2 linked regions of the Homo sapiens genome follow. The protein of the gene in region 1 interacts with the protein of each later gene in a biochemical or structural test. Each region holds a gene or a part of one and is shown on either strand. Other genes may lie near its edges.

What was found.
Region 2: the proteins of SLC22A4 (region 1) and PDZK1 form a complex in vitro, tested with the Homo sapiens proteins (one study listed by BioGRID).

Annotation. Positions count from the first base shown.
Region 1 is NC_000005.10:132,297,255-132,301,175, forward strand, and holds part of SLC22A4 (solute carrier family 22 member 4), read left to right. Parts: intron 1-3,921.
Region 2 is NC_000001.11:145,672,641-145,676,561, forward strand, and holds part of PDZK1 (Na(+)/H(+) exchange regulatory cofactor NHE-RF3), read right to left. Parts: intron 3,574-3,921; coding exon of another isoform or gene 3,518-3,573; intron 1,687-3,517; coding exon of another isoform or gene 1,630-1,686; intron 1,242-1,629; coding exon 1,017-1,241; intron 381-1,016; coding exon 90-380; intron 1-89. UniProt on the Homo sapiens protein: A scaffold protein that connects plasma membrane proteins and regulatory components, regulating their surface expression in epithelial cells apical domains.

The sequences.
Region 1 (3,921 bases):
TTGCAGTGAGCTGAGATCACACCACAGCACTCCAGCCTGGGTGACAGAGCCAGACTGTGTCTCAAAACAAACAAACAAACAACAACAACAACAAAAAACTGGGCTCTGGTGGTTGGGAGGAGGAGGGAAGGAAGCAAGTACCAGGGTAAGCAGGATGGATGGATGGCTCTCCCCCAGAGGGGCGGCAGCACACAGAGTTCTGGAGTCAGACTCAGTAGAGGGCCAGTTTTGACTCCACTGCCAACCACCTGGCTGACTCCAGGCAGGTTACATCACTGATGAAAGCCTCAGTTTCCTTGTCTATAAATTGGGGGTACAAGCGATGAAAAGAGGCTCAACATCACTAATCACTAGGGAAATGCAAATGAAAATCATAAGGAGGTACCACTTTGTACCCTTAAAAATAGTTACTACAAAAAGAAAAAAAAAACACCCAGAAATCCACTTTGGGAGGCCGAGGCAGGAGGATTGCTAGGGGGCAGGAGTTCAAGACAGCACTGGGCAACATAGTAAGACCCCATCTCTACAAAAAATAAATAAAAAATTAGCCAGGCATGAGGGCATGTGACTGTAGTTCCAGCTTCTCAGGAGGCTGGGGCAGGAGGATCACTTGAGCCCAAGAGTTTGAGGTTGCAGTGAGCTATGACCATATCTCTGCACTCCAGCCTGGGTGACAGGGCAAGACCCCACCTCTAAAAAAGTGTTGTTGTTGTTTTTAAACACAGAAAATAACAAGTGTTAGTGAGGATGTAGAGAAATTGAAACCCTTGTTCATTCCTAGTGGGAGTGTAAAATGGTGCAGCCACTATGGAAAATAATGTGGTGGTCCCTAAAAAAATTAAAAATAGAATCACCATATGATCCAGCAATACTAATTCTGGATATATGTCTAAAATAATTGAAACAGGGTTTCAAAGAGATATTTGTACACCATGTCTATGGTAGCATTATTCACAATAGTCAAAAGGTGAAAGCAACCCAAGTGTCCTTCCACAGACAAATGGATAAACATAATGTGGTATATGCGTACAATGGACGATTATTCAGCTTTAAAAAGGAAGGACATGCTACAACGTGGATAAACCTTGAGGAGACTACGCTTAGTGAAATAAGCCAGTCACAAGACAAATTATTTTCTGATTTCACTACAGGAGTAGTCACACTCACAGAAGCAGAAAGTAAATGGTGGTTGCCAGGGACTGGAAGAAGGAAGGAGTAGGGAGTCGTTGTTTCATGGGTATAGAGTTTCAGTTTTGTAAGATGAAAGTAGTGTTGGAGATTGATTGCACAACAGTGTGAACGCTTCTGAACTGTACACTTAAAAATGGCTAAGATGGTAAACTGTATATTATGTGTACTTTATCTCAGTTTTCAAAATGGGGATAATAAGAGAAGCCACCTTATCTGAGTTGTTGGGAGGACTCAGTGAGATAATGCCCCATGCCCCATCCGGTGGTGGCCAGCACAGAGTGTGGCACCAGCAAAGAGTGTGGCACCAGCAAATGGGCTTCCTAGGTGGTGGTGAGGAGTGGTAAAGGCAGAAGCTCAGCACCTTCTTTGCCTTCTCCACTGGCTGGGGACAGTGGGCATGGTGGGAGCTGTTCTAAAGTCCAGGTTGTGGCCTGTGTAATAGGTGATGGGACTTGCTGGAGGCTGAGCCCCTCTCCCCACAGTGGCAGTTCCAAGCCTCAGAGAATAGAACACAAGTCCAAACCCATACTGACTTGGCCAGTGCCAGTGTACAGGGCCAAGCCCAGGGCCCCTGAGAAGGTTCTCTGCATCCCAGTTGGCACAACACAGGTAGTGGGACTGTCCTCAGATTGTGTCTTTGCCTTATACTGCCGTGCCAGGATCTCCCAATGGGCATATCTTTGGGGACAGACAAGTCTGCCTGAACTGCCCCCCAACACCTCTTCACAGGAGGACAGGGTTAGCCAGGAACCAAGGATGGCATGCTGTGCTGTAGAAATGCCTTTCATAGTATGCCAGGAGGTAGCAATAAGGTGTCTGAGTTGGGGTTTGCGTGAGTGCATTCGTCTGTGTGTGTACATGTGTATAAGGTAGTTTCCTTCTTCAGGGGTTGATTGTGAGGTCCAAGTTTTTCAACCTGTGCAGTTACTAAGAGTCAAATTATTTTTCGTTTTATTTTATTTTATTTTATTTTATTTTATTTTATTTTTTTGAGATGGAGTTTCTTTCTTCGTTCTTGTTGCCCAGGGTGGAGGAGTGCAATGGTGCCATCTCGGCTCACTGCAACCTCTGCCTCCTTGGTTCAAGCGATTCTCCTGCCTCAGCCTCCCGAGTAGCTGGGATTACAGGGGCCTGCTACCATGCCCGGCTAGTTTTTTGTTTGTTTGTTTGTTTGTTTTTTGTATTTTTAGTAGAGACAGGGTTTCACCATGTTGGCCAGGCTGGTCTCGAACTCCTGACCTAAGGTGATCCACCTGCCTCGGCCTCCCAAAGTGTTGGGATTACAGGCGTGAGCCACCGCGCCTGGCGATTATTTTTTAACTTTATTTTGAAATAACTTTTGATTTAGAGAGAAGTTTGAAAATAGTACAGAGATTTCACATATACCCTTCATCTAGCTTTCTCTGATGTTAACAATTTAAATACGCGTTATGCATTTATCCAAACCAGGAAATTAACATTGGTTACAATAGTAATAACTGAACTACAGACTTTGTTTGGATTTCACCAGTTTTTCTACTACTGCCCTTTTTCTATCGTAGGATCCCATCCAAAATCCCATGTTGTATTTAGTTGTCATGTCTCAGTCTCCAATCTGTGATTGTTCCTTAGTCTTTCCTTATCTTTCATGATCTTGACATTTTTATGAGTATTTTGATGAATGCTCCTCAGTTTGGGTTGGCATGATTTTTCTCACAATTAGATTGCGTTATGCACTTTTTGGTAATGATACCTTAGAAGTGATGCATTCTCTGGGCATCATACCAGTGGGTACATGATGCTGATGTGTCTTATTACTGGTGATGTTAACCTTGATCATTTGTCAAGTTGGTGTCTGTGGAATTTCTCTGCTGTAAAGGTACTATTTTTTCCTCTGTCACTAATAAATATCTTAAGGGAGGTTCTTCGAGATTATACAAAATCCTGTGTCTCCTCAAATTTTTATTCACTGATTTTAGCATTCATCACTAGGTCTTGACTGAAACAATTATTACTGCAGTTTGCCTAGTGATGATTTTGCATTTTCTGATTCCTTCAACATTTATTAATTGGAATTCTTCTGAGAAGAAGAGCTTCCCCTCCACATCTATTTATTAATGTATGCAATTGTTAACTTATATCAGTACAGGTTCATACATACTTATTTTATTTCATCAGTTATAAACTAATGCTATCCATCTTTATTTTGTTGCTCCAGTTATTCTAGCTCAAACCAAGTTATTTTTCACTTTAAGGATAGAGAATGTAGATATCCAGGGTAAGGGCCTTTATCTGTCTCTGCAGTCAGGGCTAGAGGAGTCTGTGTTTACCCCTGCGGGAGGAGTGCCAGTCACAGCTCGTTGCTAAGTTTTCCATCAGGCAGCAGTTGAGCAGGAACGCAAGCAGGGACTGGTGGGACCTGGGTTGGGACTGAAGCTTCTGTTGGGGAAGGAAGTGCCCCAAGCAACCCAGAGTGTCTGATGCTGGGGTCCTCATCCCTGAGACCTACTGCAGGGGTCAGATCTCAGTCTCCATGGGCATGGCCCTTCATATATAGCCCTCAGGGCCAAGACCTCAGAGAGAAGAGGCCCTGCGTGTGAGGAAACCCGGCAGCCTCCTGCCCTGAGGCTAAAGGAGCAGGAAGGGCAACAAATGCTCTGCTCTGGAGAGGGCCTAAGTTCATCTGCAGGGCCACAGGGCAAGCAGCAGAGGCAATCCTGGCTCGTGGCCAGGGGCTAAGCATGGGCTGGC
Region 2 (3,921 bases), on another chromosome or scaffold:
GTGGCAAACATAGACATTAAATATACTCATAGGGACTGTACCCATACTCTAGTAAATTAGATCACGAAAAGAAATAGGCCCCCACTCACCCGTTCTTTTGCCATGTGCGAGTCATGGTTTGACTCCACCACTATTCCTTCTTTAGAATCTGGAGGGGTGTCAAGTGGATCAGCCAGGGAGGAAACAATAGGGATTTTCTTAGCTTGGAAATAATCATAGGCCTTCTTTCCACAGACTAGAAGTGTGACATTCTTCCCACTGCTCTGGATTCTATCCACCACCTTCTCATAGGGTTCATCTAGCACATTCACCCCATTCACTTCAATGATGACATCCTCATCCTCTAGCCCAGCCAAGTCAGCAGGACCGCCCTTCTGTACCTGTGAACAGAAGTTCTGAGTTATCAATTTCAAACAGAGAAGGGGACATCAGACTAGCTCTCCTTAAGAGAATAGATGAGGAGCTCAAGAATTTATTTTTAATCATGTTATTATTTCTCCTTGAGGTATAGAAGTTGAGAAAGGTGTTCTAATGCTTTTATATTTATGAAGGCTATAACTTCCATATTCACATGATTAGTGGTATTATAAATAGTGGTTCAGCATCATATGTCTTCTGGGATGAAGGGGGATAAATAGGTCCCCCTTCTTCACTCCCAACTTGAAAGCTTTAGGGATTCTTATCAGTCCCTACAGGGTAAGGGGCATTATGCCAAATGCACAGAAGCAAACAAATATGACTGCCAATCAGGGTTGATAGTGACTGTCAACTAGAGTTCAGTCAACTCACACTGTTTGGAACAGATGTTTGGGAAACAAACAAACGTGAGCTTATGATGTACTGGTAGCTAACCTAAAGGGTGTGGGACCATGACAACATTTATCTGAACCCAAGTGAGACCCCTCAGTGTGTGCCTTCAATGGAACCTCTCTACTAAGCCATCAATGGGTGGGAAAAGCTGAGACTATCCTAATTGTGGCTGTGTTTGTTGGGCTGCTGGAACCAGATTACCATACCTCTTTGATGAATGAGCCTGGCAGACCCCGAATCGCATTTAAGTGAAAGCCATAGCCATTTTCACCTTTAGCCAGCCTGCAGAGTTTAGGCTTATGATCTACTTCCTCTGTAGTATCTGGTGGACTTGAGACTTCCAGAGAAGTGGGAGTAGGAGCTGGAGCCTCCTTGACAGAGCCATTGGGCAGTTCTTGACTTTGATAGTAGAGAAATGGAGAAAAATGAGCCTTTTGAAAAATAAAGGGAAAAAACATTAACTTAGTTGTAACCATGAGTAAGTTATACTTTGTTAAATGTGCTGATTTTTAAGGTATCATACATATTCCACTCTTCTTCTGGATGTGTCTGATTGTAGGCTGTAAAATTCCTCTACTACCCCAACCAGGAAAGGTATAAAAGAAGACTGTGCTTCGTTATGGAGTAATATGTGTATACATGTACACAAATGCACACATGAACATAAAAGCAGTATAGGATGCGGTACAAGGATCCCAAAAGAAGTCTAAAAAATTGCTAGTTTCTTTTGAGTGAGTTCATGATAGTGAGCAAGTCACTGAACAAGCTATACATAATCTCCCTGTTGGGAAATGACATATCTGACCGACTAGCCGGTACCTCATGCAGAGTACATTCTTCTGGCTTTTCCTTTCGGTAAGATGGTCTTCAGAGCTCCTTAAACACATTAGAAAAAGTAAAACACAAGACACTTGTGATAGTTAATTTTAGATGCCAACTTGACTGGATTAAGGAATACCTAGAAGCCCGGCAAAGCATTATTTTGGTGTGTGTCTGTGAAGGTGGTTCCAGAGGGGATTAGCATGCGAGTCTGAGTGAACTACAGAAAAGGCAAAGGTGTCAGTCTGTCTGCTAGAGCTGGGATACCCTCTTCCTCTCCTGTGCTTGGACATCAGAATTCCTGGTTCTCCGGCCTTTGGACTCTAAGATCTACAGCCGCAGCCCCCCAGATTCTCAGGCCAAATGCACAGAAGCAAACAAGTAGGACTGCCAATCAGGGGTGATGCCAGTAATGTGGCTCAGTCAGATTTGGACGGAGCCACACTACTGGCATCCCAGGGTCTCAAGCTTGAAGACAGCCTGTCGTGGGGCTTCTCAGCCTCCATAATCATACAAGCCAATTCCCCTAATTAATCTCCTCTCATACCTGTATCTATATCCTACTAGATCTGTCTCTCTGGAGAATGTTAATATAACACTATTTTTATCACTATCCAAAGATTCAAAGCTACTAGAAGAGACCAACCCATATACACAGGAATAATTGGTGAGAGGGTGACAGCTGTTATATGGTCACATATTGTAACAAAAGTTAATTCCAACCCTTTGCTGCTTGCCAATACCCTCCCCTTCCAGACCTGGGATCTGTGCTTATTTATTTTGCTATGTATTGTTGTAAGCATTAGCTGTCACTTCTATTATGCCAAACTCTCCAACATCTTTAAATACTCCTAATTCATATCAACTCCCAGACCATCCATGTAAAGAAATGATGATCTTGAATACCGAAGAGGCATAGAACAGGAAACAGGATTGATTTTTTTGTAATAGAATTACAAGCCTAACTGGCTGTTTTAGTTGAGACAATTAGAAGGGTGGACCTGGGTATGGTGTGATCCTGGATCAGCAGCTAAATGGCTGCCCACACGTGTCCGGAACATTTGTTAGGTGATGAGTAGGAAATCAAGCAATGGAAGGTGAGCACAGTGTGGGCTCTACTTCAAATCGCACTGTTTAGCAGCCTGACTAAAATTAGATTTTTAGTCCTCTGGTTATCATGTGTCTTACTAACCACAAGACCACATCTCCTTCCTTTCTAAGTGAGAATACCACCAGCACAGAACCTCCTAGTTACCCAGTTCAACTAACTTCAGACCTTTCAGTCATATACTTGCAACAGTTCCACAATGGAGCCTTTCTCTTTAAAATATGGAAAATTATCAGGTGACTCATTACATGCAAAAATACGTCTGATAACACTACCCAAACAAGCAAATCAACTGTATCTGACAGTCGCAGCTCATCTCGAGGCAAAGTGCAATAACATTAAAACACTTGAGATTTTGGCCGGGCTTGGTGGCTCATGCCTGAAATCCCAGCACTTTGGGAGTACAAGGTGGGCGGATCACTTGAGGTCAGGAGTTCGAGACCAGCCTGGCCAAAATGGTGAAACCTCATTCTCTACTAAAAATATAAAAATTAGCCAGGTGTGGTAGCACACACCTGTAGTCCCAGCTACTTGAGAGACTGAGGCAGGAGACTCACTTGAACCTGGGAGGCAGAGGTTCCAGTGAGCTGAGAACATACCATTGCACTCCAGCTTGGACAACAGCGGGAGACTCTGTCTCAAAAAAAAAAAATGAGATTTTATTCATGCTTCATTCAGATAATTGGGTGTCTAGTATGTGCCAGGGACTGCTAGAGGGTTGTGTTTTACTCACTGATGTATCTCAAAGATCTACCCTCCACCCCAACCTACAGGGCTTACTTTGGAGAGCGGGGAAGGAGATGATGAGGGCAGGCTTCTTTTTCGATCAAAGTTCTCTATTAACCAAAACAGAAAAATTACAATTAAATCATTCTATGATAAGATCAGGAGGGGTCAGAATCCCCTTTACAACAAACAGCTGCAGCAGCCGCCTCTGATTTCTGCTTGACTTTCCACCAACTGCAAAATGACTCATCATTTCTGGCAGCTTCAGTTGGTTCTTAAGCCAAAAGCTAGCTCCCTATGGCTTCTCTGGTCCTGTTGTGCCCCATAGGACACCTTAAAAAAAATGTGTGGCCCGGGCGTGTTGGCTTATACCTGTAATCCCAGCACTTTGGGAGGCCGAGGCGGGCGGATCACAAGGTCAGGAGATCGAGACCATCCTGGCCAACATGGTAAAACTA